4 linked regions of the Homo sapiens genome follow. The protein of the gene in region 3 purifies or fractionates together with the protein of the main gene of each other region. This does not show direct contact. Each region holds a gene or a part of one and is shown on either strand. Other genes may lie near its edges.

Region 1 (8,008 bases), on a different chromosome or scaffold from region 3:
GGTGGAGGTTGCAGTGAGCCGAGATTGCATCACTGCACTCCAGCCAGGGCAACAGAGTGAGACTCCATCTCAAAAAAAAAAAAAAAAAAAAAGATAATGAGTTGAGCTGAGACCTCAAGGACAGGAGAAATCCCAGGTCCAATCCTGGGGCTGCCTTGGCTCACCAATCACCTGCCTGGTGCTGCACCTCTGAGCCTGACCAGCCAGTTCTGTCCACAGACCCAGACATCGTCCTGGCCCCCAGAACTACTAGCCCATGCAAGGTGTCTCTGGCCCCTCTGGGAATGATGTCTCACACTGGAGGCAGCAGTTTTGGGGCAAAGAACTCAGCCCCTGGCCGGGTGCAGTGGCTCACGCCTGTAATCCCAACACTTTAGGAGGCCGAGGTGGGCAGATCACAAGGTCAGGCGATTGAGACCATCCTGGCCAACATAGTGAAACCTTGTCTCTACTCAAAATACAAAAATTAGCCAGATGTGGTGGCAAGCGCCTGTAGTCCCAGCTACTTGGGTGGCTGAGGCAGGAGAATCGCTTGAACCCGGGAGGCAGAGGTTGCAGTGAGCCGAGATTGCGCCACTGCACTCCAGAATGAGACTCCGTCTCAAAAAAAAAAAAACAAAAAAAAGAACTCAGCCTCTGGAGTCACACAGACCTGGCCTCAAACCCCCATCTCTCTGTGATCCAATACAAGTCATTTCACCTCAGCTTCCCTAGCACCTTTTTCATGACTGTAGAAAGAGAAGAATCTCATAGCCGGCGGCCTGTGTTGTTACATTGCTTAGTTCTGCTTATTAAGCACTAATAAGGTGCCAGGTGAAGGTGGCACTTTATACACATTATCTCATTTAATCTTTACCACATTCACCTTAGGTAGGTAGTTTTATTACCCCCAATTTATAGATGAGGAAACCGACCCTCAGAGAAGTCAAGTAGCTTGCTCAAGGCCATGAGCAAAACCAAGAATATTTAGAGCAGGGATGGCCTGGCACCAACCATGCTCTTAACTGTTCTTCTATCCTGCCTGGTAGGGAGGTGGGTAAAAGATATCAAATAAGCCCCAGGCACAGCCAGCTCTTGACAGATGGGAGCACCCCCTTTTCCCTCCTCCTTCTTCTCCCCACTGATCTGTAACTGACATGAGAGGTCAGACAAAGGCACAGCAGATGGGCAGGGTGGAGGGAGGAACCAGAGGGGAGAAGCTTCCATGGAGGATGTGTCCCCATGGTGGGAAGGTGGGATCAGAGCCCAACAGTGAACCTGTGGCAAGGCCCAGGGTCTGGAGATCCTCAGCCAGCAGAGGAAATCGCCTACACTTTCTGCTCAAGTCCTGCTTCCCCCACACTCCCCACACCTAAATTCAGACCCCCTCAGCAGCCCTGCTTCTCAGCCTAGGCTCAGCCCCACAACCTGGTTACCATTAAACTTTCCTTCCCTACCCCCTGTGATGCCCCCCACACCTGCACATTTGGGGGCCACAGCCACATCTGGAAGTCTCTTTCCCTCTCCCCACCTCGCCACATACTGTAGCCCCATCACCATGTGGACTCCCAAGGTACCTTCACGCCAGATATCTTGGGCCCACTGGGACCCTCACTTGCATGCTCAGTCCCCCCAAGGCCCCTTCTACTCACCATGCTGCCTGGACAGGGGCTGGCTGGGGTCTTGTCTCTCTGTCTGCTGCAGGATAGTGAGCAGGGATAGATCTGTGAGAGGCCTGCAGCGGCCAGCCAGCCTCCTCCTTATACTCGCTGGGTGGCTCTCAGCAGGTGGATGTTGTTAGAAACGGCCTGGGAGGGCAGGGCCTGTTGACTTGGTCACAGAGTACGAGGCAAGCTCTGGGCCTGCACCCAAACAGGGGAGCCAGCTGAGGTGGGCAGAGGAGGGGCCAGGGCTAGTAACTCCACACAGGTATCCAGGCCTCTGGGTACATGGTATCTGTTGTCAGTCACGCAATCCCATTTCCTGGTGGCACAGCCTGCACTTCACAGGTGGAAGATGATTTAGAAATCAAGACCCTGAGCTCCAGCACCGCCCCCACCCATCAAACCCCTGCACTCCCCTGCCCTAGGGTTGCTGAGGGCTGTAAGTCGACTGTGGGTGGGACTAAGAAGATCTCTGCAATGATCCAGAAATAATGAGTCCTCGGCCAAGAGATCAAGCCTCAGGACATCCTGCCTGGAAACTCAGAATATCATAGAACAAGCGACCTAGAGCTTGGTTTTAATCCCACCTCTAATAGCTACTAGCAATTAAAACTTCTTTTTTTTTCTCTCTCTGGAGAATGGGGAGAGGTAGTATTACGAGGTACTAACAAGGTAACCTTTCTTAAGTGCTTAGTCCAAAACAGCTGTTGCTCTCCAAGGGCAAAGCAAGAGGATGAGCAGGGCCTCAAGGCACTTCCTAAATGTCTCTTCCTAGGCCATGGCAAGTCACTGCTGCTCTAGCCTGGCCTTATGTCCCCAGAAAAGGAGTCTCCCGATAGTCTTAGGCAAAATTCTGAAATAAAAAGGCTAGTCTCTAGCATTTGTATCCTGCTTTATGCATCTTTTTTTTTTTCTTTTGAGAAGGAGTCTTGCTCTGTTGCCCAGGCTGGAGTGCAGTGGTGCAATCTCAGCTCACTGCAACCTCCACCTCCGGGGTTCGAGCGATTCTCCTGCCTCAGCCTCCTGAGTAGCTGGGATTACAGACACCTGCCACCAGGCCTGGCTAATTTTTATATTTTTAGTAGAGACACGGTTTCACCATGTTGGCCAGGCTGGTCTCAAACTCCTGGCCTCAGATGATCCACCTGCCTCAGCCTCCCAAAGTGCTGGGATTACAGGCATGAGCCCCTGCGCCTAGTCTGCTTTATGCTTAAGGCACCTTCTCTCCGTACCTCCTTTGAATCCCTCAACAACTCTGTAAGGTAGGCAAGGCAGGGCCTCCCTTTCCCAGGATGAAGGAAAGGAAATTGAAATCCCTAGTGTCCTGCCTGAGGTCACATGGGGATTAATTAATGCTGGAATTAAGATTTATCTGGGACTCGGGCTCTGCTTCCCCTCTTTCCACATGGCAGAGTGTGCACAGCAGCCCCTCCTCGGTCTTTATCTCCTTCCTCCCAGTCTTCAGTTCCATGGCCAGCCAGGGTCACTCCCTTTTGTACCCCTCAACTGTCTTGCCTCCCACTAGCTTCAACATCCTTGTTTGACTAAACCAGAACCCTGGTTAAATTTGTTTTGTCCCCAGCTCTGTGTCTGCACTCACCCAGCTAAACAGTGGCCATAGAAAAATCCAGAACCATGCTGACTGATGTTTCGAACGCATGGCCACTAGCCTCAAATGGGCCCTCATGTTGCCTGGAAATCACACCACAGTAGCCCCCCATTAGCCACTTTCTGCAGTTTCAGTTGCCTGCAGCCAACCACAGTCTGAAAATATTAAAGAGAAGGTTCCAGAAAAACACAATGTATACGTTTTAAACTGCACGCCATTCTGAGTAGTGTGATGAAATCTAGTGCCATCCTACTCCATCATGTCTAGAACATCCCTGTGTGCAGCGTATCCACACTGTTGACACTACCTACCCATTAGCCACTGAGTAGCCGGATCCCTTATCAGATCGACTGTGGCGATGCTTCTGCTCATGTAACCCTTATTCTACCTCATAACAGCCCCACCGCTCAAGAGCAGTGATGCTGGCATATTACTATCATTGCTTTATTTCTCTATATCATTATTGTTCTTTTTTTTTTTTTTTTTGAGACAGGGCCTCACTCTGTCACCCAGGCTGGAGTGCAGTGGCATGATCTCAGCTCACTGCAACCTCTGCCTCTTGGGTTCAAGCAATTCTCCCACCTCAGCCTCCTGAGTAGCTTGGATTACAGGCACATGCCACCACGCCTGGCTAATTTTTGTATTTTTATTAGAGATGGTGTTTCACCATGTTGGCCAAGCTGGTCTCGAACTCCTGACCTCAAGTGATCTGCCTGCCTTGACTTCCCAAAGTTCTGGGATTACAGGCATGAGCCACTGCACCTGGCCTATTGTTGTTCTTAACCTCTTACTGTGCCTAATTTATGAATTAAACTTGGTCATATGTATGCATGTATAGGAAAAAACAGTACATAAGGTTCAGTACTATCCGCCATTTCAGGCATCCGCTGGGGGCCCTACAACATATCTTTGTAAGTAAGGGGGGACTGTTGTACAGTTCAGTCCCTCTTCCAGATAGCAGCCAAAACCAGGACTAGGTCTGCCAGATTTAGCAAATAAAAGTATTTTATTTAGCAACCCTATCCAGGAAGTAGTTGCTAATGTGAAATTTCAGCCACTGTGTTACATAGTGCAGTTGAAACAGGGGACTTTTTCAGAGACCCTGTCAACCCAGTAAGCTAGGGAATGATCTCAAGTTGGTTAACTCTGGCTTTGGCTACAGACTGAAGGTTAGAACTCTTCTGTCTCCCACCTGGAACAAAGAGGCCCAAAGAAGAGACCCAGCCACTTAACATATCAAAGATAAGAAAGCTCAGCCTTCTACTGGGTTGGCCCATGAAACCATGGACCTCAGGAATTATTGTCCAGATGGAGTGATATGGGGCCCAGAGGGCCCACTGGGCTCAAAACTCTCTTGTGTAGCACTGAAACTTCTCCCAACTGGCCTTGGGAGTTGGACTCTCAGAGTCAACCTAGGTATCACCAACTCCAAAAAGAAAACTATCCTAATGGCAGTCAGCTGTCTTATGTAAAGCAGAATGAAAAGACTGAGTTTTGTGATCTTGGCTCACTGTAACCTCCTCCTCCTGGGTTCAGGCAATTCTCCTGCCTCAGCCTCCCGAGTACCTAGGACTACAGGCATGCACCAACACACCCCGCTAATTTTTGTGTTTTTAGTAGAGACAGTGTTTCACCATGTTCGCCAGGCTGGTTTCAAACTCCTGACCTCAGATGATCCATCTGCCTTGGCCTCCCAAAGTGTTGGGATTATAGGTGTGAGGCACTGTGCCCGGCCAAGACTGAGATTTTTAAAGCATTTTAATGCATCTAGATTAAAACATAAGAGGCCATGAATACTCTTAATTTCTTCAACAAATATTGAGTGCTTGCTGTATGCCAAGCACCATTTCAGGTGCCAGGGATACAGTGATAAACACAAAAGTTTATGCTTTTTTGGGGGGTGGGGAATGGAGTTTTGCTCTTGTTGCCCAGGCTGGGGTGCAGTGGTGCTATCTCGGCTCACTGCGACCTCCGCCTCCCGGGTTCAAGCAATTCTCCTGTCTCAGCCTCCCAGGTAGCTGGGATTACAGGCGCATGCCACCATGCCTGGCTAATTTTTGTATTTTTAGTAGAGACGGGGTTTCATCATGTTGGTCAGGCTGGTCTCGAACTCCTGACCTCAGGTGATCTGCCCACCTTGGCCTCCCAAAGTTCTGGGATTACATGTGTGAGCCACTGTGCCTGGCAAGTTTATGCTCTTAAGAAGCTTACATTCTAGCCTGGGCAACATAATGCGACTCTGCCTCCACAAAAAAAAAAATTTTTTTTTAATTAGCTGGGTGTGGTGGCACATGCCTGTGGCCCCAGCTACTTGGGAGGCTGAGGAGGGAGGCTCACTTGAGCGCAGGAGGTCAAGGTTGCAGTGAGCCGTGATCATGCCACTTGCACTCCAGCCTGGGTGACACAGTAAGACCCTGTCTCAAAAAGAAATAAAATGGAGCTTTCATTTTCATGGGGAAGACAGACAATAAACAAACAAGAACATTCCAGATAGCAATAAGCATGTGAAGAAAACAAGGCTGGATAATGGAACAGAAAGATATGCAGGGGCTGCTATTTTAGACTGAACAGAAGCCACTCTATAAGAAGGTGATATTTGTTTTGTTTTGTTTTGTTTTGTTTTTGAGACAGAGTCTCGAGTCTCGCTCTGTCGCCCAGGCTGGATGGAGTGCAGTGGCACGATCTCAGCTCACTGCAAGCTCTGCCTCCTGGGTTCACGCCATTCTCCTGCTTCAGCCTCCCGAGTTGCTGGGACTACAGGCGCCCACCACCACGCCAGGCTAATTTTTTGTATTTTTAGTAGAGATGGGGTTTCACCATGTTAACCAGGATGGTCTCGATCTCCTGACCTCATGATCCGCCCGCCTCGGCCTCACAAAGTGCTGGGATTACAGGCGTGAGCCACTACACCCGGCCAGAAGGTGACACTTGAACTGAGGGCTGAATGGTGAGGAGTCAGCGAGGCAAGATCTGGAAACCAGTTCTCCAGACAGACAGAATAATAAGTGCAAACAATCATAGGTAGGAACTAGCCCAGTGTGTCCAAAAACCCAGAGTGAGGAAAGGAGAGAGCTCTACAAGATGAGATCATAGAGGTGGAGGGGCCTTGGAAGGAGAATGGCTTTTATATAAGTGTAACAGGAGGGTTTGAAACAAGCGTCATTGCCTAGCTTGTGTTTCAGAGAGATGACTGCAGCTGCTGTGTGGAGACTGCATTAGGGTTTCAAGCCTAGAGGCAGGAAGCTGGTTCAGAGGCTGCTGAAGGCATCTAGGAATAACGGGATGGTAGTAGGGGGTGGTGAGAAGTAGCTGGGTTGGCAGTAAAGTGAAGGACATACTAGTGTAGGTGGTGGCAGAGCTTCTCAACAGCCTTGCCTGCCCCTGCCCAATTCTTCACTAGCAAGGTCCTGATTTTATTTGAGTATTCACCCTTGCACTTGCTTGAGGAAGACAGCTTTCCCCCAGACCTAGGGGTGTGTACAGGTTAGTCCAAACCATCCATGGCCATTTAACTCCCTCCCTCCAGTGACTGGTTTAGGCAAAAGCTAGTGAGATAGAAGGGGGAAGTCTGCTAGGGCGCTTCAAGGAAAGGTTTTTCTCCTGATAAAAACAGATGTGGGAGGAAGCCCCCCATTTCCTGCCTTAAGACAGAGTCATATAAGGACATGATACTTAGAGCTGCTGTATCTTGTGTTCCTGAGGGAAGATGTCACCCGCTCTTTGAGGATGACAGCGCAGAAAGCTAGAAACACTGGAGTTATTGGTGACATGACTGAATCAACCCTGGAAAGACCCTATACTCAGATTTCTTGTGGGATAATACATGCCCTCATTGTTCAAGCCATTGATAAGTTAGGTTTTCCATTATTTGCAGCCAAAAAATTCTAACTTAAAAGAGGGAGAGGAGAGAGAGAGAGAGAGAGGAAAGTGATCCTAAAATAAAGATTTTATTTATTTATTTATTTATTTATTTTTTTAGATGAAGTCTCGCTCTTGTCCCCCAGGCTGGAGTGCGATGGTGCGATCTTGGCTCACTGCAACCTTCGCCTCCTTCAAATGATTCTTCTGCCTCAGCCTCCCGAGCAGCTGGGATTACAGGTGCCCGCCACCAAGCCCAGCTAATTTTTGTATTTTTAGTAGAGACGGCGTTTCACCATGTTGGTCAGGCTGGTCTCAAACTCCTGACCTCAGGTGATCCGCCACCTTGGCCTTCCAAAGTGCTGGGATTACAGGCGTGAGCCACCGTGCCCGGCCAATCCTAAGATTTTAACTCAAGCACTTGGAAGGAAGATGATCACTCAGACTGGGAAGCCTAGAACAGAAGCAGGTTTGGCAGGGAGTGGGGTGAGGGTAGAAAACAGTTCCATGGTGACTGTGTTATGTTTGAGATGTCTCATGGGCTTTCAAGTGGAGATGTCAAGAAAGCAATTAGTCATATGAATCTGAAGTTCAGAGGAGAGGTCAGAAATGGAGATATAAATTTGAGTCGTCAGCATATATATGACATTCATTTCTTTTTATCCTATTCCTTCACTATTGTATGGGAATGTATATACTCTAGTTTTAAAATAATTCCAAAATTATTTTTTAATAATTCTCTTTAAATAATTCCAAAAATGTTACAATAACTTTTTATGATGAATATTATTAAAAATATACCTAAAAATAGAGATAATATAATAAAACCTCATATATTCATCACCAAGCTTCAACAATTGCTCCTTCAGGGAGAAAAATAAATGAAGGAAATAAGAGA
Region 2 (8,008 bases), about 30 Mb from region 3:
GCAAATTAAGAGAGATCATATGCTACATTTTTGGAACATCAACTAGAGCACAGAGATTACTTCCTTATGACGAACATCTCACTTTTGGTTCTCATTTTTTGAGTATGAGTATCTCCAGTTGACAGAAGTTGTAGGTAGTCAGTAATTGTTTTTTTAATGAATGAATGATTCTAATATACATCTCAATCAGAATTTTGAAAGTAGGATTTATCCTATTCTCTAAAACCTGTTGCTCTTCTTACATTTTGTATGTCTGCTAATGGTACCACTTTCTATCTAGTTAAATAACAAAAGTGGGAGGCCTCTTGTAAATGCTTTTCTTCTACCTCATTCTATCAATTTTTCTTCATATTTCAAATGTTTGAACCTTCCTCCTTGCTCAAAAATTTACTTCTACAACAGCTTCTGAACTTGAATCTATTGCCTCTGTTATTGTGCCCCTGTTGCATAAAATTCCTTATGATTTTCACTATTTCTGGTTGAATCTGAATTTTGTGACTTGACACACAAGGCTATGCCCTCTCTCCTGTCTCCTTGTTCAACCTCATTTCTTGACTTCTTCCCGTTACTCCCCTTTCTACCTTGACAAACCGCTCATAAAATTTGAATTGCTTGTAATTTAAAGGTTCCATGTCTTTGAACATGTTAATTCCTCGGCTTAGATCTTCCTTCTTCACTTCTTCATCAGGCCATTTTATTAATCCTTTAGTTAGTACTTTATTCAGCTGTCTTAGTTCTCATTTAGCATCTCCATATTCCCATTATTTACCAAACATATTTCTTACAGTATATAGTATATTTTTATCATTTTACTGATATATCTTCATTGGACAGGCAAAATGTCCTGTTAACCTTTGTAGTTTTTTAACGTTTCTCGATATCTCTAGGCGTTGATTGATATGGCATAAATGCTGATTGACACTCCCTTCTGCTGGTATGCTAAATTATTGTGAAATTGTGTGATACCGCAGGTATGTATCTCATTATGTATAAAACCTACAAGGAACTCCTTGGTCTTTACCTTGATTATAGAATTATTTATCCATAAAGAAACAATGCATTTTAGTGCATACCTATGTGTATTCACAGACATGTTTGCATGATTTAAATTAAATAGATTGTAAGCCATGCTAATGGCAAATTATGATTAGAATTGGGAAGCAATTTTATAAATTTAACTTGAATTCATTATTTCAATTTAATTTCCTATTTTTTTTCTTCTATGGAGAATCACCTTTTTGAATAGTTCCCGGAAATAATTTGGATTATCCTTTCCCTTATTTCTAAATTTCATGCTACTGTTGTCTACATATATGTATTTTCCATTTAGGTAATATTTGCTGCTAGTTTTTGTGTTCCTTGTTTTTGCTACTTTCTGTGAGTTATCTGTAATTTGTGTTTTTCTAGAAGCCAGGTGACTGAGTTTGATTTAGTTTCTCTGAATGTAGAGAAGCATTATTTGCTCTTTGAGATCTTTAAAAATTATATGGCATTGCTGAAGAAAACATTTGTGGGTCCTGGGTAATGACTGGCAAGGGGGTGGAAGGAAAACATTTTAAACTTGACTTTTTGACATGAACTGGTTACAGCTGAATGAACATGTACTGGAAAGGTAGATTCTGTTAAGTTTTTTTTTTTTTTTTTTTTAAGTATGTTTCTCTTCTTCCTCTCTCTTCTGACATATTTCCCATTCCCACTTTAAACAACCTTAAGTTTCGACAGTAGAGGCATGCTGGTCAGATTTTAATGCTTAGATATCAAATATAACAATTACTATATATTTCAAACAGCAGGAATTGAGAATTCTGTTGGTGTCTTACTCCAAAACAGCATTTTAAATTCATATAAACCTTGCCTTAAGGGATGGAGAAAAGACAATTTAGGGAACAGCATGAGGTTAAACATATTGATCAGTAGTCCAGTAGTTCTTGCTAGACTTGGATAGAATGTAGACTTTAGAAAAATAGTATTATCAACAACAACAAAGAATGCTTCTCTAGAAAGACTGTCTTTTGTTTCCATTTTATGGATTTTGGAGGATGAAAGATATATTTTAGCCAGGGATGAAAAAAGTGGAGAAGTTGAAAGTTGAAGTGTTAAACATGAGCTGAAAATTTTGTGATTTAAAAATTTTTATCATTTAAGCTATATATTAAAGGATTTAGTGAGCTCTGTTATTTATTTCTGGTTAAAACATAGGGTAATTTTGAATTTTTGCCAAAGTATGAGAACCATTGCCTGATAAATTAACTTCTAGAAATTAATTATACAGTGTTTATTTATAACCTTGTTAACTAGAGTTAAGACCCTTGTTGACCTTGAAGTCTTTGGGACTTTGAGTCTCTCTTGATGAATGGAAAACTATTTTATTATCCTATTTTAGGTAAGTGTTATCTATCCAATAGGTATATTGGATATGTTCAATTTCTGTTGTATGTGTGTAGAGTGATATTATTGGACAAGAACTTAGCTTTTGGTTACAAGTGTTTTTTTTTTTTTTTTTCTATTTTTTTATGGAGCAGTAGTAACGGCTAATATTTTTCCATCTTCCTTTCACCTCAGTAACCCTCAAATAAATGAGAAATAAAAAACGCCACTGAAACTTTATTTCTTCTGTAGTTTATAACTGACTGAAATATTTTGCTTACAAATTGTTTTAATAGGAAAGATATTTAATAATGCTGGAACAAAACCTTGAAGTTTACGTTTGTTACTCTTTCTTTAATGTTGGAAACCCAGTCTGTCTCACTGTTTGATCTCTTGTAGGTAGCTTGTATGCAGCTCATCAATGCCCTGGTTACATCTCCTGATGATTTGGATTTCAGGCTTCACATCAGAAATGAATTTATGCGTTGTGGATTGAAAGAGATATTGCCAGTAAGTGCCCTGCAGTCTCCTTATTAATATTTAAATTAAAAGAGTACTTGAGTAGGGGGAAATTTAGATAAATTACCTTGAAGAATAATTTATCTGTGGGAAAAGGCTTGAGTTAAAAAATCTATTTTTGAAATATAGATGATAAGATTCGAGTGTTATTTAACACTTTAAATGTTCGAATGCTATAAATCAAGTTGAATGGTTGGTTTATTGTTTATATGTTTTTTATTCTTTTGCATAATTAAAAACAAAATCATTCATCATAATTTCTATTTCATATCTCTAGAATTTAAAATGCATTAAGAATGATGGCCTGGATATCCAACTTAAAGTCTTTGATGAGCATAAAGAAGAAGATTTGTTTGAGTTATCCCATCGCCTTGAAGATATTAGAGCTGAACTTGAATATCCTTTTGTTCTGAAGTCTAGTCAAATCATATATAAAATTATTGCTAAATCCAAAATACTCAGCCACAAATATTTAGCTCATTTCTATATAAACAACATGAAATCAAACCTTCATGCATCAGAAGAATGTTATTATTTTATTAATTTGTGTGTTTTTATGAATACACATATATGTAAGCGTATGCTGCAACTAACAAATGGATTCTGTAGATTGGTTTCTTATATGTATGTGTGCAATCTATTTTGTTTTCTTTTTATATTTGACACTTTTCCTTCTACTTAGGGCTTTTTAGCATTAGGAATAGGGCAGCCTTAGTCACTGGCTGCTCTTTCCCTGCATCTTGGGTGCATACTCATGGGTCGCATGTTAATCTGTGGGTCTGCAGACGTCTGTGCTCCTCATGAGACCCAACAGGTTCCTATCCTCACCTGGGGCTTCTTCATGGTAGATAATTAACCTGACCACCAGCTCTGTTGGTCAGGCAACCTTTAGAATTCAACACAGTATTCATAGCCAGCTTCCCTACTACCTTTGTTCCCAACAGCATCTGTGCTTAGGGGAGACAGATTAGTTGGAACTGATTGTAGAAGGGAAGTCAGGAAGTGTCAGGTTAAGTCACCATTTCCAGAGTTTTTCCACTACCCTCAATCCTAAATATCTGTATTTTATGTTGAATATATAAGATGCCTGTATTACAGTTCCAAAACCTTACAGGACAAATTCTGTCATATTATTATAGTTGTTTGGTGTAGAGTATAAATAAATCCATATATTCCTTAATCAACTCACTGAAGCATATGATGTTTACAACATGGTGTGGAGCACAGTTAAAGAAACTAGAGCAGAGGGATATTTTATTTCTATTCTTCAGCATCTTTTGCTGATTCGAAATGATTATTTTATAAGGTAAGAGGAAGTTGTATTCTAATGTTTTCTTTCACTAATAAAAATCTATTAATTGTGAAATTCACATCATATTTGCCTTTGACAAGCAAATGATTTTTATTTTTGTCATAACACTGATTCATAGAATGTGTTGTTTTCTCTGGGCATATATTTAGGTAGACGATGGTAAAATGATATTACTATTACTTTTTAAGCTCCTGTGGATTCCTGGTTACAACCTTTCATCTGAATAAAAATGCAAACTAGCAACAAATTACTAGTTTATCATGTGACAGATAATATTTTCTAGTTATTTCTTAGGCAGTAGGAATGATGTTGATAAGTTTCTTCTTATAAGTTACATGAAGGGCACTAAACATTGCTTTTATTAGTGTTTAAGTAGCTGGCAAGTCTTAATAATACAGTTGCGTTTAATGTTGCTAATATATCAAAAAGCCAGACAAATGGCTTTTAAAGATTGATTATATCCTAGCCATCTGAGGTTAACAAATTATTTATCTTTCTTTTAACCTCATCTACATTATAATGTGACTAAATATGGAGATTAGTGCCTAACTCACTGGGTTGTTAGGCAGATGAAATATGGGAATGTGGGTAAAAGTTCTAGCCAAACCCTTGGCATATGGTGTATGCTTAGTAAATGTTCTCTATATCTACTTTCCATTTCTATTACTGTTTTATGGTGGAAGCTGAGCTCTTTGAATATAAAATCATTTTGTTGCCACCAATTTAGGTTTGCTGAAATTTCATTCTCTTATACTTTGGGTGTTTTTTTCTTTTCTACTTAATTTCAAGTAGAAGAGTTTTTTAGACAAGCTTCATTCAGGCTGTGTCCTCGGGGTAACATCAGAGGGTATGACTCAGTGATTTTTTGATGTACCTAACAAGCAAGGAGGAGACCCAAAATGTTAAAACTTTAGGTTTTTCAGGATGAGGATAGGACATGCATCAAAATTACTCTCTTTGTAGCCAGAAATCCCACTGATATTCTAAAATATGAGTTTAGTAACTGATTTTTTTAATTTGCTCCTTTCTGATATTTTATTAAAAATAAACCAGTTTAAATATTTATATTATAAATGCTAGATTAAGAATTGCTAATTTAGATTTTTAAAATATCATTTGTACCATGCTGTTTATGATACTATATTTCTACTCCAAATTTACTTAAAAATGACATTGAAACTTCTATTTACTCTAAAGTAAACTCCATACATTTTTTGATCTGTGTGTGGTCAGTCCTGTCGTCTTCTGGAAGTTTGATGCTGTTTGAGTACCCAAGAATTTAAGACTGTTGTTTGTTTTCAATGGTTTGAACATGCCTGTAGTCCTGCAGGGGTTTTATCATACTTATGACTTTGATCCCTTCATCTGTGCCCCAAGAGAGCATGTGGTTGTATCTAGCTTCAAAACAGATTAAAAAACACAACTGTTTTGGGTTATGTTCAGGTGATACTATCATTTGAGTTAAATCAAGAGTCTTGGAGAAAGATTAAATTGTGGCATTACCAAAATGACATTAAGGCATAGAAATTTAGATATTTGGCCATCTTTTGAGTATGAACTTTTACATTTGATGTTCACCTATGTTAATTCCTTCTTTGGCTCTTTAAACCCCGGGTATCTTGATTCCAGATATGGTTGCCACAAAGGCAGTGTTCTTCCTGTGACTGCTAGACTCAAGACAACTCCATCAGTTTTTTCCTCATGTTTCCAAACTCTCCTATTTATTATTGTTGTTGTTAATATTTCTTTAAAAAAATTTCTTAAAAAAATTCTTAAAAATATTTCTTAAAATATGCTTTTATTCCAAGATTGTGTCAGAATTGTGATAATTTACATATATTTTTGTCATGCATTTATTTTTTAAAATTTTATTTATTTACATACAGTAAAACTTACTCTTGTTGGTGTACACGTCTATGAGTGTTGTTTTTTTGGTTTTTACCTTCATTTTTTGGTTTCATCTACCTCAGAAGGACCTCTATTTTACCTTTTCAGCAATCTTAGATAACCTGTAACATTTTTTGTTTAATGAGCTCTTTAAACTACTTTTGATACGAACACACATAATTTTTCTTTTTCTTTTTACAAACAGTAGATTGTTCTATTGCAGAATGTTAAATGTTCTCATTTGAAAGAATTGGTGGATGGAAAAATTAGAATCTTTTTTCATTTCCACTTTTGGGACAAAAGAAAGTTTGACAGAAATGGAATTCGATTGGAGAATATATGTCAAAGGCAGCCCCTTTTCCCTGGGAAAAAGGGAGGGGGCTGAAATACAGCAAGATAATTGGGTGGAGAAGATCAAATTCAGTTTTACACCAAATAATTAAGGCTTACCATGTGTAAAATACCACGCTAGTTAAATGCGCATGGGAGATAATTTCTGATATTTGTTAACAATACCACAGAGAAAAGTGAAGATTTCAAAAACTCCTCCAACAAAAATAGCATTTTGTCAGTAATGACAACTTAATGTTCATCCCTTAATTAAGTTATTCACATATTCCTCAGACACATTTACTACCTCACCAATATTGCTCATGGAGATTATTTTCTAGATTGACATTTCTGGAATCCAGAAATGTTGTGTATTATTCTTTGATAGTATTGCCTCCCCAGTGAGTTTTTGCATGAAATTTCAGCCACATTATAGATGAACTCATAATTGGACATTGTGGAGTTGAGGAAAAACTTACTAAAATTATGATTTCTTAAAAAGATGACATGAAATAGCTTGTGTTGTTAATTTAAAACATTTTCATTTTAAAAACATTAGAATAATGTTGAGTAGAAAAGAAATACATCATCTAGATTTTTAAATGTAATAGATGTAAATGTGTTTAAATGTATGTACCACGTGTAAATGTGGTTATTATGGCAGAAATATTTGGGGATGGGAGATAATGTCTTGAAAGAACTTGAACAAATAGAGGCAAGCATAGATTAACACTTTTGATTTGTACCCAGGAACCGTTTCTTAAACATTTTCACTCTATGACAGTTAATGATCATTAGTCATCTTTGCTAGTGTTAAGCTGTAGTGGATTTTCTTCACTGTAATAGATGGTTTATTAGGTGTAAGGTAAGTAGGTCAAGAGCAGTGGGTCATAGTTTATGGAAAGGAAAGTCTAAATGGCTTGAGGGACCCACACTTTAGAATTTAGAGAGGAAAAGTATGTTAAAAGTCATTAAGGAAAGAAGTTCTAGGGGATGATCTGAGATGGAGGACTGTGCTTCATTAGAATAGTACCCAACCTGTTTATCACTTTAGTTTGGTTTTGCTTATAAAATCTTTTATCTGTTTTATTTACATTTATTAAATCTTTTTTTTTTTGTCCCTTTCTGAGACATCTTTCTTGTTCCAGTTTTCTCTTTAATCCTCTGTACTAATGATGAGTGACATCATTTTTCATATTACCGGCTTTCCAAAGTGAACTAATATTTGGCATAACCAAAAAGGTACAATATCTAAAAGCACTAGGATATTTTAAAACCAGTCTTCTCAAGAAGAGATGATTATGCTTTACAAGAGGAAATATTTCTACCATTAGCCTTATTTCACTAACAAGTTTCTGGCCAAAAAGAAAGCAATAAATACCTACTCATGCTCAACTAATCTCAAATAACTTTTTTTTTTTTTGGTTTGGTCTTTTTTTTTTTTCTTTTTTTTTTTTTTATTATACTTTAAGTTTTAGGGTACATGTGCACATTGTGCAGGTTAGTTACATATGTATACATGTGCCATGCTGGTGCGCTGCACCCACTAACTCGTCATCTAGCCTTAGGTATATCTCCAAATGCTATCCCTCC
Region 3 (8,008 bases):
TTGCTGTGCAGAAGCTTTTTAGTTTGATATAATCTATTTATCTGTTTTTGCTTTGGTTGCCTGTGCTTTTGAGGTCTTACACAAAAAAAATCTGCCTGGACTGATGTCCTGTAGCATTTCCCCAGTGTTTTCTTCTAGCAGTTTCATAGTTTGAGGTTTTTAACCTATTTTGATTTTATTTTTGTATATGGTCTTTAATCCATTTTGATGTTTGTAAATGGTGAGAGATCAGCATCTAGTTTCATTCTTCTGCATATGGCTATCCAGTTTTTCCAGCAACATTTATTGAAGAGACTGTTCTTTCCTTAAGGGATTTTTGTAATGTGGCAGATTAAAGTATATTTGTATACCGAGGGGAAAGAGCCAGTAGACAAAGAGATACAGGAAAGAGAGAAATTAATTAAAGGAGTAATGTCATGAGGAGGTGAAGTTTATAAATATCGTACAGTAGCTATAAACAGCTGCTAATGTTAGAAATTAACTCCTATAGGAGGTGGCCACATTAATGGCATTACAGGATGGCCCTCTCAGAGAGCATGGAAAAAGGCATCGGAGAAATAAGAACTTTGCTCTGGTTATGCCTATAGCATCAATTGGTCGTTTTCATGGTTTTTAAAATCTCAACCTCATGCAAAGTTGAGGGCTCCCTAACAAAGCAAAAAAATATTTTTGTAAAACTAGTGTTTCAAATTTTAGTGATTCCTGGTTGATCTGTGTTAAAATTCTATAGCTAGAAAAGCATTTGGACAGTTTCTGAATTTGGAGTTTATGAAACTTTGACATACACATAGTTTTCAAAGCCTAAATCCCCAGAAGCTTGTCAAACCAAAGTAGCAATTGGATCAGAATTCCTCTTAAGGAATCACCAGGTATTATGCAAAAAATTTAGTGTGAGCTATGTATTTAAACTCTATTAAAAATTCTGGAAGAAAATAATTATTTAAGAACCCATTAGTTTTTAAGACTAGAGAGTTGGATTCTTTGAATAATTTTTATTCTTCACTGATTTCTTTTTATAGAATACTTTTATGTTTGTTTTCAAAACTAAGAAGTAACTGAAGTTTAGTTTTTATTCTGTACTGGTTCTTTCATCACTATTACTATTTTATATAAGCTAACGCATTAAAATGATACAAATCTTGCTAATTTGATTATGTTTGAATTACCACTGGATTTTTTACTGTTAACCTTATTAACTCATAAATGGGTCTTTATTTTTTACTGAAAGCTGTGTATTATAAATGCACTGTGGAAGATAGGTTCTGTCCCTTATAGAGGGTAAAGAATGTGTAATTCTGCCACATGTGATAGAAAATGTCTTATTTTTATTATGTGTAAACAGAACAGTTGCTTTTAAGCAGTGCTGAATATTATATGTATATGTCATATGCTAGGTTCAGGAAACTGAGATTATATCTAAATATATGAGAAACTTGTTTGTTGTCTAGTCTTTTTGTTAGGTTATCTCTGACTACCTCTGGCTTGAGACATTTTGTGAAATTTCTTCATTTTTTCTAGCTATAAAATAATACTCTTACTAAATGCATCATGATTTTACTGTGACAATTTTGAGTTTATCTTTTGATGGAAAAATCTCAATGTACATTAATAGCTGATGATAATTTATAAAAAAATTTTTTAATCTGATAAATCATTTAATTTGTCTTTTGAAATTTCAGGGTGTACTGATGGTTGGACCCCCAGGCACTGGTAAAACTATGCTAGCTAAAGCTGTTGCCACTGAATGTGGTACAACATTCTTCAACGTTTCGTCTTCTACACTGACATCTAAATACAGAGGTGAATCTGAGAAGTTAGTTCGTCTGTTGTTTGAGATGGTGAGTGACGATATATTCAGATTTCAAAGTAGTGTGTGTAGGCCTATGATGCCCCCATAAATCAGTTCTGTCCACCTGGAATCTTTTTTGAAAAGGGCAGTGTAGTTCTATTTTAATAGTTCTTGACACACTGATGAGAATTGGGGTGATGGGTTTTGTGGGGTAGTTGGTGTATCTTCAGTGTATCTTTTTCTTTAAGGTAAAGCAAGGCCTTTTGGCATCCTGTCCACTCAGGGTGGAAGAAGAGACTTTGGTCGTATATGTGGGTTGACTGGTATTTCTGGATCTCTAGGGAGCTGATGGAACAGAAGAATATTTTCATATGTATTTTAAAAATCAGAGTCTGACCCGTCATTAAAGTTTATTCCTTTTTCATATGGGATTTGCAGTAACTTAAGAATGTATATTTGAGGATTGAGGTTGATTTATTTTTGAAAAATTTTTCCATTATGGAAATTTCCAGATATGAAAGTAGAAAGCATAGTACAATGAACCCCTATGTATCTATCACCCAGCTTCACCAGCCATATAACCTTTATTTTTAGAAATTTCTTTTTTCTCATGGGAATGATTGATTTAGCCTTTGCCATAACCAGATGATGGCATTAAAACAGTGAGAAGTTTCTGCTCTCTTTTGCCATTGTTTTAAAAGATTTTTTTAAATACTCCAATTGTTTTATGAGATTATTGAATGATTTCTTTAAAATATTTTCATAAAGGCTAGATTTTATGCCCCTACCACGATCTTCATTGATGAGATAGATTCTATCTGCAGTCGAAGAGGAACCTCTGATGAACATGAGGCAAGTCGCAGGGTCAAGTCTGAACTGCTCATTCAGATGGATGGTAATTGATATTTAATTATTGTTTCAAAACTCTCATTTTTAAATATTTTGTGTAAACTCATAATCAATGGATGGATTAGAAGGCAGCCTGAGTTTAATTATTTGTTCATTCACCCATTTATTTGTTCATTTGTTCATGCACTCAGAAAGCATTTCTTGCATACTTGTTAGAGATCATGCACCATTTCAGATTCTGAGGTTACAAAGAAAAAGGCTACTATGGCCTTCAAGGAGCTTACTGTTTGGAGCAAAGTTTCTGGAGGCATGATCTAGAGTCCTAGGGATCTTTGAGACCCTTTAAAGAATCTGCAAGGTCAAAACTATTTTCATAGGAATATCAAGTCATTGTTTGCCTTTTCTTTTTCACTCTCATTCTCTCACAAGTGTACAGTAGAGTTTTCGAGAGGCTGTAAGACGTAGGGTATCATAAAAAGAAAGCAGAAGCAGATATGAGAATCCAGCTTTTCTCTAGATAGACATTAAAGAGATTTGCAAAAATGTTAAAAAAAAAAAAAAAAAAGCCCCTCTTCTTTTTTTTAATATTTTGGAAAACATACTTTTCATAAACATATGTAAATAAGTAATGAATTTATCATTATTTTTAAGTGAATTAATATTTTTAAATTTCAATTTTAGGTTTTTTCCATACAATTTACCCATGCACCATCTATTTTAAGTTTTAAAGATATTGATAGATACACTCCACACACAAAAAAGCTCTTTGGGGTTCTCAATAATTTTTTTTGTTTAAGGTTCAGAGTCTTGCTGTGTTGTCCAGGCTGGAGTACAGTGGTGTGAACACAGCTCACTGCAGCCTTGACCTCCTGGGCTCAAGCAATCCTCCTGCCTCAGCCTCCTAAGTAGCTGGGACCACAGGCACATGCCACCACATCTGGCTAAGTTTTATTTTTTGTAAAGACAGGGTCTCTCCATGTTTCCCAGGCTGTAGTTGAACTCTTGAGCTGAGATGATCCTCTGGACTCAGCCTCTCAAAGTGCTAGGATTATAGACATGAGCCACTGCACCCAGCCTCAGTAATTTTTAAGAGTATAAAAGGGTCCTGAGATCAAAAAGTTTGAGAACCACTGATCTGGATGGGAAGCAGGCAACTGATCAGATGAGTATAATACATTATGGTACATTCTGGCGTAGAAGTAAAGTCTGGGTGCAGTGGAAAACACAGGAGAGGCACCACCAAGACCAGGGGAGTCATGGAAAGAGATAGCCAAGTTGGACTTTGAAGCATTGATAGGAGTTATCAGGACAGAGAAAAAGGGCCCTGAGGAGCCATAGAAGGAAAAGGGTTATGGGCTCAGAGCTGCTGTTTAGAGATAAGTTAGCTGTGTGGTAGACAAGAGGCCGTTCAAGCAAAACATTAGAACAGATAAAATACATTAAAAAATATCCAGGGTGAGGGACTGAGTGCAATGGCTCATGCCTGTAGTCCCAGCACTTTGGGAGGCTGAGGTAGGAGGATCACTTGAGGCCAGGAGTTCAAAACCAGCCTGGTTAACATAGCAAGACTTTAACGTAGCAAAAACTTTAAAAAGTAGCTGGATGTGGTGGCATGTGCCTGTAGTCCCAGCTACTCAGGAGGCTGAGGTGGGAGGATAGCTTGAGCGCAGGAGTTTGAGGCCACAGCGAGCTGTAATTGTGCCATGGCACTCCAGCCTGGGCAACAGGGCAAGAACCTGTCTCATAACAACAACAACAACAAAACACCAACAATATCCAAGTTGTGTTGTTTCAAAACAGTCACGGTTATTCATCAACTGTGGATACTTACTGAATACTTACAATGTACTATGAGACCCTTCCCTCAGTGAGTTTACCATGTTAACTTTTGCTAAAGTATGAGAGAAAGGAATGAGTATGTTTTATTTTTGAAGTGGGGTATAGGAGAAAACATTAGGTGTTTAAAATTGGAAAAGGAAATCACTGAATACAAATTTAGTCAGCTGAATTTCATTGAGGGATATTTGTGACTATTGTTGATTATTAGTTGGACAGCTTGATTCTTTGTCATAATGACCGAAGTAGGAGTTTCATAATAAGAAAATATTATATGTTTCAGTGAGCTGAGATCATGCCAGAGCACTCCAGCCTGAACAACAGAACCAGACCTTGTTTTTTTAAAAAATACTGTATTGAACTAGGTTGCTTTAAGTCCACTAGCACTTTATTATGCTAGACTAGAAAGTCTTATCAATAAAGTTTATGGGGTTTTTTTATCTTTTATTTCTCACTACATATTTTCTAAAGTTTCTGTTGTGTGACCTGAAATTTTTTATTCTAAAATTTTAATTCTGAAAAGGAGACACTGTGTATATACATGTAGTTGGTTTGGTTATTTTTATCTGTGATTACTGGGTTCATTCTTAAATGTCTTATTTATTTTTTACAGGTCACTTAAAAGTTTAAAGGACAACATCATGGAAATATAACCTGTCTTTCAAAATTATAATTGCATGCTAGAATATTAAGTAAATGTGAACCCTCTGTTTTCACTTCTTGAGAAAATAGATTAAAAACTAAAATAAAATTTTTGCGGAACTTTATGATTTAAAAGAAATAAGAGGAATAAAACAGAGCCTAATCTCCCATACCTTTTCTTTTAGGAGGAAAATACATTCATTTTCTTACAGAAAAATGGATGTTTTTATTGGATTAAAATCCTGCACTAGGTTGCACAAGAAAAAAAAAAGAAAGAAAAAAAAAATCCCACACTAGGTTATGTGAATTCTTCTACTTCTTTGTTTTGTAGTTATCTGTTAGTGTGTCTGGTTTTGCCACCACACAGAGGTCAGGACTGCACTTTCTTTATCGTTGATTCTGCCACTTTGGCTAAAAGAAATGTTAATTGAATGAAAGAATAAAGAGTTGTAAGAAAAACACTATCTTTTCCTCCCTTACTGTGTATAGGAGTTGGAGGAGCTTTAGAAAATGATGATCCTTCCAAAATGGTTATGGTATTGGCTGCTACTAATTTCCCGTGGGACATTGATGAAGCTTTGCGAAGAAGGTTAGAAAAAAGGATATATATACCTCTCCCAACAGGTATGATGTCTTCTCTATTTTGAGCTTTCTGTTACTTTTTGTTACCTTTCCCATGTATCTAAATCTTTATTCCATTGCCATTCTGCTTAAAGAAGTTTATAGCATCACAAAATTAATTTGTAGTAGATGTGAACACAGGCCACAGTACTCTATTGAAATTTCTTATGTTTCAGAGAAATTCTTAAGTTTGGAACAATATTCATCTTAATAAATATGGTAGCACTTTTAAGTTTTCACTTTTCAACTTGAAGTTTTTTTGGATCTTTTTCAGAATATGCTGTTTTGGAGAGAGAGAGAGTGTGTGTGTGTGTGTACACATATTTATTTATTTATTTTGTGACACAGTCTTATTCTGTTGCCCAGGCTGGAGTGCAGAGGCATGATCTCAGGTCACTGCAACCTCCACCTCCTAAGTTCAAGTGATTCTTGTGCCTTAGCCTTCCAAATAGCTGGGATTACAGGTGTGTACCACCACACCCAGCTAATTTTGGTGTTTTTAGTAGAGACAGGGTTTTGCCATGTTGTCTAGGCTGGTCTTGAACTCCTGGCTTCAAGTGATTTCCCGCCTCGGCCTCATAAAGTGCTGGGATTACCGGTGTGAACCACCACGCCCAGCCTGGAAAATATAGTTTCATCCTGTTAATAAATGCTGAAATATCCATGAATGAATGTTTTCTTTTTATTTTGAGGTAAAATTTACATACAATGAAATGTACTTAAGTATATAATTTGATGAGTACAAATCTGTACACCTGTTTAATCAATACCCTAATCAAGATGTAGGGCATTTCTATCATCCTGTAAAGTTCTGTGTGCCCCTACCAGCTAATCCTCCAATAGGCATTCACTGTACGTGATTTTTATCACCATAGATTAGTTCTTTCTCTTGTTAAACTTCATATAAATGGAATCGTGACTGCATGTACTCACTGTGTCTGGCTACTTTCACTTGAGGTTCATCCATGTGATCACATGTATCAGCAGCTTATTCCTGGTATGATTATACCACAATTTGTTTATTCTCCTTTTGATTGGTATTTAAGTTATTCCTAGTTTTTTGGCTATTATGAATAAAGCTGTAAACTTTCTGGTACGTATCTTTTTTATGGATGAATGTTTTCAATTCTTTTGGATAATATAAGAAAAGAAAAGATGGGTCATAGGGTAGGCATATGTTTAGCTTTTATAGGAAATACCCAAACTGTTTTTCAGAATGGTCATACCATTTTGTATTCCATCATCAATAAATGAGAATTCAAATACTTCCATATCCTTGCCAACATGTGGTGTTGTCACTATTTTAATTTCAGTCATTCTAGTAAGTATGAAATGCTGTCTCATGATTTTAATTGGTATTTCTCTGATGACTTACGTTGAGTACCTTTTTATGTGCTTTTTATGGTCATGGTATACTTTTTGTATAGTGTCATTTCTTTTTCCCAGTTTTTAATTGGATTATTTGTTGTTTTATTAATGCTTTTTATGTTATTAGATCTGTGCATTGTGCATATTTTCTTCCAGTTTGTAGTTTGCCTTTTGATTTTCTTTATGGTATCTCTTAATAAGCAGACATTTTAAATTTTGATGAAGTCCTGTTGACAATTTTTTTTAATGAATAGTACTTTTTGTGTCTTAAGAAATCTTGTCTATCCCAAAGCTGCAAAGTTTTTCTCCTGTTTTCTTTTGGAAACTGTATTTATATCTGTGATTCCTCTTGAATGAATTTGTGTGTGTGTGTGTGTGTGTGTGTGTGTGTGTGTGTGTAGATGAGTCATTTTTTTCATATGTATATGCAGTTGTATCATCACTTACTGAAAGGAGTTTTCTTTTTTCATTGAATTACTTCGGCACCTTCATTGAAAATTATTTTGTTGTGTATGTGTGGGTCTATTTCTGAATACTATTCTGTTCCATTGTATTTTAAATACACACACATATGGTTATCTAAGTTATTTGTTTTTTTCTTGAGCAAGCTTTGGTAACTTGTGCCTTTCAAATAATTTGTCTATTTTTTTTATAAGTTGTCAGATTTGTTTGGATTTGACCTAATGTGAATGTGGAAGCTGATTAAATAGTTATGGGAGATTGTGGAAGCTGATTATATAGTTCATGTCTGGTTCTGGAACTTGAAGTCAGTAAGGAGGGCACTTAGGAAGAGATGATGAATGTGAAGTGGTAGAAGTAAGGACAAACTCTACCTGTGGGGGTGGAATCCATGAGGATACATTGGAATCTATGTTGAACTCTTTTTTTCCACTGAGACTCCTA
Region 4 (8,611 bases), on a different chromosome or scaffold from region 3:
TCAAAAAAAAAAAAAAAAAAATCCACACCTGTAACCGTAGCACTTTAGGAGGCCAAGGGGTAGGGTTGGATCACCTAAGGTCAGGAGTTCGAGACCAGCCTGGGCAACATGGTGAAACCCCGTCTGTACTAAAAATGCAAAAATTAGTTGGGCGTGGTGGCATGTGCCTGTAATCCCAGCTACCCAGGAGGCTGAGGCAGCAGAATCACTGGAACTCGGGAGGCGGAGGATGCAGTAAGCCAAGATCGCGCCACTGTACTCCAGCCTGGGCTACAAAGTGAGACTCCACCTCAAAAAAAAAAAAAAAAATCAACTTCACAGAAAAATGTCAAGAATAGTACAATGAATTCCCATATCGCCTTCACCTGGATTCAATCTTACTCATTTTGGCATCTCTGAATTCCAATGCACGGAAGGCACTGAAATGTTGAATCATGGAATGAATCTCATAAGGAAAAATAAGCAAAACATTATGGGCCGACTTCCTATAAGTTAAAGTGACAGGAGGAACGAACTCTGAAAAAATCTGAGAGAAAAGAAACTAATCAGATAGAAGGATTGGAACAAGAAGAAAACAGAACAGACACAAAGAGTCTATGGGATGTATGTTTATTTCACCTGCTGAATGCTTGCTTTGTTTTATTGCATTTGATTGTTATTTTATTATTTTTTTTGCTGGGTTTAAGTAGTAAGAGAAACAGACAAATCACCAAGAAGCCAGGTAAATACCACACAAGGACAGGAGAGACCAGCTAAACCGATGGTGTACTCTCAGCAAAACCTTCCTAATTCAACCATCACCTGTTTGCAGTCTGGGATTATTTGGACAAGTGAGGCTAAATATCATCTTGGCATTATTAATTATTTGAGAAAGTTTGCTAAGCAAATGAACAGTATAAACAAGGGAAATGTTGAATATTTGCTCTAGGGGAGCAGTGAAAAGCAAATGAACAACTTCCAAATCCTTTCTAATTATATCAATGTGCTGAACTTTTGTCTAATTATTATGTTCCTTGAAAATGAAATAGAATTTTTTTTCCTAAACCATTTCATATTTTTAAAGTACTGGGGAAAATTCAACTTTAACAGAAAGGCGAACATTTTCATAGGCAGAAAACACACACTGCCAATGTACCTTCATGGAATAAAAAATGTCAAACATTGGATTTTCTCTTAAGCAAAGAGTGTGCTAATTACAAAAGTTATCATCTGCTAGAGAGCTTCATCAGCACGCTTCCCTCTTCTGTCAACTGTGTGGAATAAGTCTGCCTATTTGCAGATAATGATAACAACAGCTACTATATAGGAACTTTTTTTTTTTTTTTGAGACAGAGTCTCACTCACTGGCCCAGGCTAGAGTGCGGTGGTGCAATCTCAGCTCACTGCAACCTCCGCCTCCCAGGTTCAAGCAATTCTCTGCCTCAGCCTCCCGAGTATCTGGGATTACAGGCACCCGCCACCACACCTGGCTAATTTTTGTATTTTTAGTAGAGACAGGATTTCACCATCTTGGCCAGGCTGGTCTTGAACTCCTGACCTCGTGATCCACCCATCTCAGCCTCCCAAAGTCAGGCATGAGCCACCGCGCCTGGCTGTAGGAACTTTTTTTTTTTTTGAGACGGAGTTTCGCTCTTGTTGCCCAGGCTGGAGTGCAATGGCGCAATCTCGGCTCACCACAACCTCTGCCTCCCAGATTCAAGCGATTCTCCTGCCTCAGCCCCCCAAGTGGCTGGGATTACAGGCATGCACCATCACACCCAGCTAATTTTGCATTTTTTTAGTAGAGACAGGGTTTCTCCATGTTGGTCAGGCTGGTCTCGAACTTCTGATCTCAGGTGATCTGCCTGCCTCGGCCTTCCAAAGTACTGGGATTACAGGCGTGAGCCACCGCGCCCAGCCAGGAACATTTTTTTATATGCCAGACTTGATGCATTGTTTCATTGAAGCCACAAAACAAGGTAGGCTTCATTATCATGTCCATTTTACTGACAGGAAAACCAAGGCTCAGAGAGGTCAAAGTGTACAGCAGAGATTCAAATCCAGGGCTATCTGGCCCCCAAACCTAAGGACATTACACTGCATCACAGAAACAGATAGGACCTGCCCAAAGTCAAAATCAAAAGGCCAGGGAAAGGGTTGTGAAAAGCTATGGTGATTAAGACATGCCGAATAAACTAAATTACAGTCCAGTTTGGAGGGCATCTGCTAGACATTTAAGCTTTTGTGAACGTAGGAAGTAAACATCTTTCTAATAAGGCCAGGCTTGGCTTACCTAGTTAGTTAGAATCACAATAAGGTATGCTTCACTTTATCCAATAAATAGGTATGTGCCTATAAAATTATGTATAAATCAGGGCCAGGTGCGGTGGCTCATGGCTATAATCCCAGCACTTTGGGAGGCTGAGGCAGGTGGATAACCTGAGGTCAGGAGTTCGAGACCAGCCTGACCAACATGGTGAAACCCCATCTCTACTAACAAAAAACAAAAAAGTTAGCCAGGCGTGGTGGCGTGCACCTGTAATCCCAGCTACTCAGGAGGCTGAGGCAAGAGAATCGCTTGAACCTGGGAGGCAGAGGTTGCAGTGAGCCAAGATCACGCCACTGTACTACAGCCTGGGTGACAGGGCGAGACTCTGTCTCAAAAAAAAAAAAAAAAAAAAAAGTGTAAATCAAAGTTTAAAAAATCAGAACAGAAAATGGGATTCTTTGGAGGTCAAATATGACCCTAGGGTAAACACTTCTGAGAATAAATTTTTCCTTTTGGGGGCCAATCTGAAAATGAACATACCCCTCTACTAGGCTACAATAACGTCCTAAGACTGCAAGTACAGAGATGCTCATTAGAAGGCACAAAGCAGCCTTCCTGAAAATGGACTGTAGCAATGTTTCTCAAAGGTGCAGATCCTGGGAGAAGGAGGGGTCCACAAAGACAAAAGTATTTTAATCATAATTTGAAGAGTATTTCACTGTGTTGAATTTTTTTTCTTTTGAGACAGTCTCACTCTGTTGCCCAGGCTGCAATACAGTGGCATGATCTTGGCTCACTGCAACCTCTGCCTCCTGGGTTCAAGCGATTCTCTTGCCTCAGCCTCCCCCAAGTAGCTGGGACCACAGTTATGTGCCACCATGCCCAGCTAATTTTTGTATTTTTAGTAGAGACAGGGTTTCACCATGTTGGCCAGGCTAGTCTCAAACTCCCGACCTCAGGTGATCGCCCACCTTGGCCTCTCAAAGTGCTGGGATTACAGGCGTGAGCCACCCCATCTGGCTGTGTTGACATTTGTACTTATGACACAAAGCAATGGTGGGTAAAACTGCTTGCAGTCTGAATCAAGGCAATGTTACCACAATGTACTAGAAACCTTCCCTCCTTCCTTCCTCCCTCCCTTCTTCCATCCCTCCCTTCTTTCCTCCTTCCTTTCTCTCTCCTCTCCCTCCCTTCTTTCCTTCCTTCCTTTCTCTCTCCTCTCTCCCCCCACCCCACCCCCTGCTCTCTCTCTCTCTAGACAAGGTCTTTTTGCCCAGGCTGGAGTGCAGTGGCACAGTCATGGCTCACTGTAGCCTCAACCTCCTAAGCTCAACTGATCCTGAGTGGCTGGGACTACAGGCACGAGCCACTATACCTGTCTAATTTTTTACTTTTTACAGAGATGGGGTCTCACTAAGTTGCCCAGGCTGGTCTTGACCTCCTGGGCTCAAGTGATCCCCACACCTCAGTCTCCTTAGCAGCTAGAACCACAGGTGCATGCTACCATGCCTGACTATTATTTATTTATTTATTTATTTTATTTATTTATTTAGTAGAGATGGAGTCTCACTATGTTGACGAAGCTGGTCTTGAATTTCTGGGCTGAAGAGATCCTCTTGTCTTGGCCTCCCAAAGCGGTGGGACTATAGGCGTGAGCCACTGAACCCAACCATCAGGACATTCTTAAATAAAAATAATTGTTTGTTTGTTTTAAATGTGAGTACATGGCAGTAAATAAAATAATAGACAAATTTTGGTTATTCAGTCTTGGGAATTTGGCAGAAATTTTCTCAAATATGAAATAAGTGAGTCTGTCACTTCAAGGAAACAGCTGACAATATTTGCTGCCAATGTTAAAATTCAAGCTGTCAAGTGAAAACAAGTTGAAAACTTGTTTCCATTACCTTGAGTTTGATAGTTTCCTAATACTTAAACTCCTTTTTAAAATGAAATAGGTGGTGATATTAACAAATGTGATTTTTTAAATACCGTATAATGGCATCTGAAAGGTCAACGTTTAGATTTGCATAACTCACTGAACCAACATTTTCTAAACGACCAATGGCTGATGTTATAAAACCATATATGGGTAAAGCAGCCAATGAAAGGGCAAGATAGACCAATGGATTTTAATGTAACACAGTATAAAAGTTCACCTATAAGGCTTCAGATGACACACTGTGACTAACATTTAAGAAACTGCCACTTGTGGCCTGGCATGGTTCTTCATGCCTGTAATCCCAGCACTTTGGGAGGCCAAGGCGGGCGGATCACCTGAGGTTGGCAGTTTGAGACCAGCCTGACCAACATAGAGAAACCCCATCTCTACTAAAAGTACAAAATTAGCTGAGCGTGGTGGCACATGCCTGTAATCCCAGCTACTTGGGAGGCTGAGGCAGGAGAATCGCTTGAACCCGGGAGGCGGAGGTTGCGGTGAGCCGAGATCAGGCCATTGCACTCCAGCCTGGGCAACGACGGCAAAACTCCCGTCTCAAAAAAAAAAAAAAAAAAAAAAAACTGCCACTTGCAGGCCAGGCATGGTGGCTCACGTCTGTAATCCCAGCACTTTGGGAAATGGAGGCAGGCTGATCACCTGAGGTCAGGAGTTTGCGACCAGCTGGCCAACATGGGGAAACCCCATGTCTACTAAAAATAAAAAAAATTAGCTGGGCATGGTGGTTCACACCTGTGATCCCAGCTACTCGGGAGGTTGAGGCAGGAGAATCGCTTGAACCCAGCAGGCAGAGGTTGCAGTGAGCTGAGATCGTGCCACTGCACTCCAGCCTGGGCGACAGTGAGACTTTTTCTCAAAAAAAAAAAAAAAAAGAAAAAAGAAACTGGCATTTGCTAAATTTTGTATAGTATGAAAGGAGAGTGTCTACAGTTATCTGAAAAGGCAATTAAAATGTTTCTCTCTGCTCCAATTATATATTTGTATGAGGCCAAATTTTCTTCATACACACCAGCCAAAACAGCATAACAAAAAACAGTTTGAATCCTGAAGCAGAAATGAGAGTAGTTTTTTCTATTTCTATTGAATAAACTTGAAAAAACATAAAATAATGCTACTCTTCCTATTAATTTTTTGGAGGCAAATGTAATTGTTTTCCATTAAAAATATTATTTATGTTCAGAAGTAATGGGTTTATTGTTGTTGGAGTTTTTTTGAGACAGGGTCTAGCTATGTTGCCCAGGCTGGTCTTGAACTCCTGAGCTCAAGCAATCCACCCACTTCAGCCTCCCAAACTGCTGGGATCACAGGTGTGAGGCACTGCACATGGCCAATTATTATTATGATTATTATGAGCCACTGCACCTGGCCAATTATTATTATTATTATTGGGTTTTTTTGAGACAGAGTCTCGCCCTGTTGCCCAGGCTGGAGTGCAGTGGCAAGATCTCGGCTTCAAATGATTCTCCTGCCTCAGCCTTCCAAGTAGCTGGGATTACAGACATGTGTCACCACGTCCGGCTAAGTTTTAGTAGAGACAAGGTTTCACCATGTTGGCCAGGCTGGTCTCGAACTCCTGACCTCAAGTGATCCACCTGCCTTGGCCTTCCAGAGTGCTAGGATTACAGGCACGAGTCCATGCCCGGCCCAATTTTTATTATTTTTAAAGGAACTAATTAATGGACATCTTAAGATTTTCCCAGTTTAAATCTTCGATATGGTAAATATCATAAATATAAATAAACAAAGCTCTTTGAGGTAAGAGCATACAGGGGTCCCAAGGCTTAAAAGGTTTGAGGACTGATGTTCTATAGCAACATTACATTGACCTTTCCAGAAGGCAAAATGGTAAAGCACATTTTATAGTACCTCTAAAGTACAAAGGGAAAAGATATATTTTAAGCATATGACAGAATGTTCAATTAAAAACATTTTCTCCACACTACATTCAGTGAATATAAAAAGAATGTGGATTCCCCAGGAACAAATTCCCGAGAAGTGAGGGACAGTGCTGTAATTAGAAAAATGATCTGGACTCTAGCCCAGACCCTACCAGTCTCTCTAGACTTTAGTCTTCCCATCTGCAAAGTGAGATATCAGAATAGCCTATTTTCCATTTGCTTCCAATTGTCAATACCATGACTCTAATCAGGGATCCCTAAATGGGGGCCCACAAGCTGTCTCTGGCCTTCAGAGTGACTGGCCAACCCTGTTTTTGAGAAGTACCCCAAGAGGACAATCAGCTGGTGCTTGGTGAGCAGCTTTCCTTTCAGGTGAGGAATTGATTTTCAGTTACAGCCTCAATCCGGCTCACTAGACTCTCCTCTGCAGACATCTGCATTTACAACCTCTGGAATAAAGGGACCCTCAAAACCGGTCCAAATCTCAAGCTCCATAATTCAGCTCCAGAGACAGGGTGTCTGGGTTTCTCACTCACTCTGCTACATGCTGGTTGTTTGACTTTGGGCAAGTTCCTTAACACCTCTGAGCCTCAGTTTCATCATCTGTAAAATGGAACAACGCTGAACTCAAAAGGCTGGTATGAAGCTTAGCGAGGTGTTGCCCAAGAGTACTTACAGAGTTCTTGGTACTGGAAAGCACTTTGTTAAAGGGAGCTATTATTATTAACGCCAAGGCACAGAAAGGGAGTATTTCCTAAACTCCCTTCACCCCCCACACCAATTCCCTTTCCCAGCACCTGACGATTGCACTCCCACGATCAAGCTTGTTTTCATATCAACTCCCAAATCCGACAGTTCCACATCCCAACATTCACAAGACCCTCCTCAGACCTCTACTTCTCCTTCCCCACCCTACATCCCTTCACTGAGCTCCCGGCCAGTACCGGTTTCCTTCACGACCACAGCCGAGCAGAATGGTCACAGCACTGACCACTCCCCCAGGCTCTCCTCCGCGTTCCAGACCACTAAGCCTCCCTATCCCTCATTTCGGAGACCCCCTTGGGTCAGGAAGTGGTGGTCCAGGGGTTCATGGCCTAGGATTCTGCCCAAAGCGCGGTCGGGAGGGATGGGAGAATAACAGCCCGACCTCCCGGAGGGGCCCACAGACACTCACCGTCCATCCCTAGAGGCGGCGGTTCCGGGAGCTCGAACCGGAAGCGGCCTCTACACTGTTTGCAGTTCCCCTGGTTACTGCGGGGCCCCGGACCAATGACGGTGGAGCTCCACTTACTGAGCCCGCCCCCGGGGAGTGACGTCATGCCGGCGCGCTGGAACTCCTCCTCCGAACCCTGGGTCTGACCCACCTCCCCGGGCCCCGGATCGTTGTGCGCAGGCGCGATGGACCAAGGCCCTTGGCGGTGCGTTGCGCATGCGCCCCGGGCGCCGCCGACTGAAGTAGCAATGGACGCGCTGGAGTCGTTGTTGGACGAAGTCGCTCTGGAGGGGCTCGATGGCCTGTGTCTGCCAGCGCTGTGGAGCCGGCTGGAGACGCGAGTGCCGCCCTTCCCGCTGCCTTTGGAACCCTGCACGCAGGAGTTTCTCTGGCGGGCCCTCGCCACGCACCCGGGCATCAGCTTCTATGAGGAGCCTCGGGAGCGACCCGACCTACAGCTCCAGGACCGGTCAGCGGGCGGCCTGGCCTGGCGGGCGGGCGGGCGGGCGCAGGGCCCGGGGGCTGATGGAGCTGGGGGCAGGGCGGGGGAATGGAGTGGGGCTGTGCAAGTACCGGAGGCCTGTTGATTGAGTTGGGGCACGGCGGTAAGGCTAATCTGGGGTCCCTCAGGCCTGGCAGGGCCCTGGAGTCCGATGGAGTTGGCGGGGGGAGGGGGAGAATCTAGTGATGTCCCGTTTTGTCCCTGTGTGTGTTTTGGGGTAATGGCGAACAGGATTGGGGATATTCTTCAGGCTTAAAAGAATGTTTCCTTTACATTGGAGGATAGGATTAGAGCAGGAAAGACACTTTAGAGCCAGACTGGAGACTCCTGAGATCAACAGACCCTCATGGTATATTCATTCGGTGCAGATAGCCTAGGGCAACTCGAGATCTGCGTATCAGGACAATTAGCGATAATGCTAAAAGCTGACATTTATCAGGGACTTCATGGGTGAGGTGCTGTTCTTTTTTTTCTTTTTTGAGATAGAGTCTCTCTCTGTGGCCCAGGCTGGAGTGCAGTGGCGCGATCTTGGCTCACTGCAACCTCCGTCCGCCTCCCAGGTTCAAGCGATTCTCGTGCCTCAGCCTCCTGAGTAACTGGGATTACAGGCATGTTCCACCACGCCCGGCTAATTTTTGCATTTTTAGTAGGTATGGGGTGTCATCATGTTGGCCAGGCTGGTCGCGAACTCCTGACCTCAGACAATCCGCACCTCTCGGCCTCCCAAAGTGCTGTGATTACAGGCGTGAGCCACGGCGCCCGGCCACATTGCTGTTCTAAGAATCTATTCTAGAAG

Evidence for each region.
Region 1: the proteins of KATNAL1 (region 3) and TUBA4B purify together in Homo sapiens (tandem affinity purification; one large-scale study listed by IntAct). This does not show direct contact.
Region 2: the proteins of KATNAL1 (region 3) and DIAPH3 purify together in Homo sapiens (tandem affinity purification; one large-scale study listed by IntAct). This does not show direct contact.
Region 4: the proteins of KATNAL1 (region 3) and KATNIP purify together in Homo sapiens (tandem affinity purification; one large-scale study listed by IntAct). This does not show direct contact.

The regions. Positions count from the first base shown.
Region 1 is NC_000002.12:219,260,190-219,268,197, reverse strand, and holds part of TUBA4B (tubulin-like protein alpha-4B), read right to left. Parts: intron 1,678-8,008; coding exon 1,632-1,677; intron 1-1,631. UniProt on the Homo sapiens protein: Tubulin is the major constituent of microtubules, a cylinder consisting of laterally associated linear protofilaments composed ofalpha- and beta-tubulin heterodimers.
Region 2 is NC_000013.11:59,987,342-59,995,349, reverse strand, and holds part of DIAPH3 (protein diaphanous homolog 3), read left to right. Parts: intron 1-2,766; coding exon 2,767-2,877; intron 2,878-3,163; coding exon 3,164-3,282; intron 3,283-4,075; coding exon 4,076-4,192; intron 4,193-8,008. UniProt on the Homo sapiens protein: Actin nucleation and elongation factor required for the assembly of F-actin structures, such as actin cables and stress fibers. Required for cytokinesis, stress fiber formation and transcriptional activation of the serum response factor.
Region 3 is NC_000013.11:30,225,144-30,233,151, reverse strand, and holds part of KATNAL1 (katanin p60 ATPase-containing subunit A-like 1), read left to right. Parts: intron 1-1,679; coding exon 1,680-1,838; intron 1,839-2,557; coding exon 2,558-2,684; intron 2,685-5,605; coding exon 5,606-5,740; intron 5,741-8,008. UniProt on the Homo sapiens protein: Regulates microtubule dynamics in Sertoli cells, a process that is essential for spermiogenesis and male fertility. Severs microtubules in an ATP-dependent manner, promoting rapid reorganization of cellular microtubule arrays.
Region 4 is NC_000016.10:27,548,841-27,557,451, reverse strand, and holds the start of KATNIP (katanin-interacting protein), read right to left. Parts: upstream 7,309-8,611; 5' UTR 7,282-7,308; coding exon 7,275-7,281; intron 3,839-7,274; exon of another isoform or gene 3,819-3,838; intron 1-3,818. Other genes in the region: GTF3C1 (general transcription factor 3C polypeptide 1), read left to right, coding at 7,562-7,782. UniProt on the Homo sapiens protein: May influence the stability of microtubules (MT), possibly through interaction with the MT-severing katanin complex.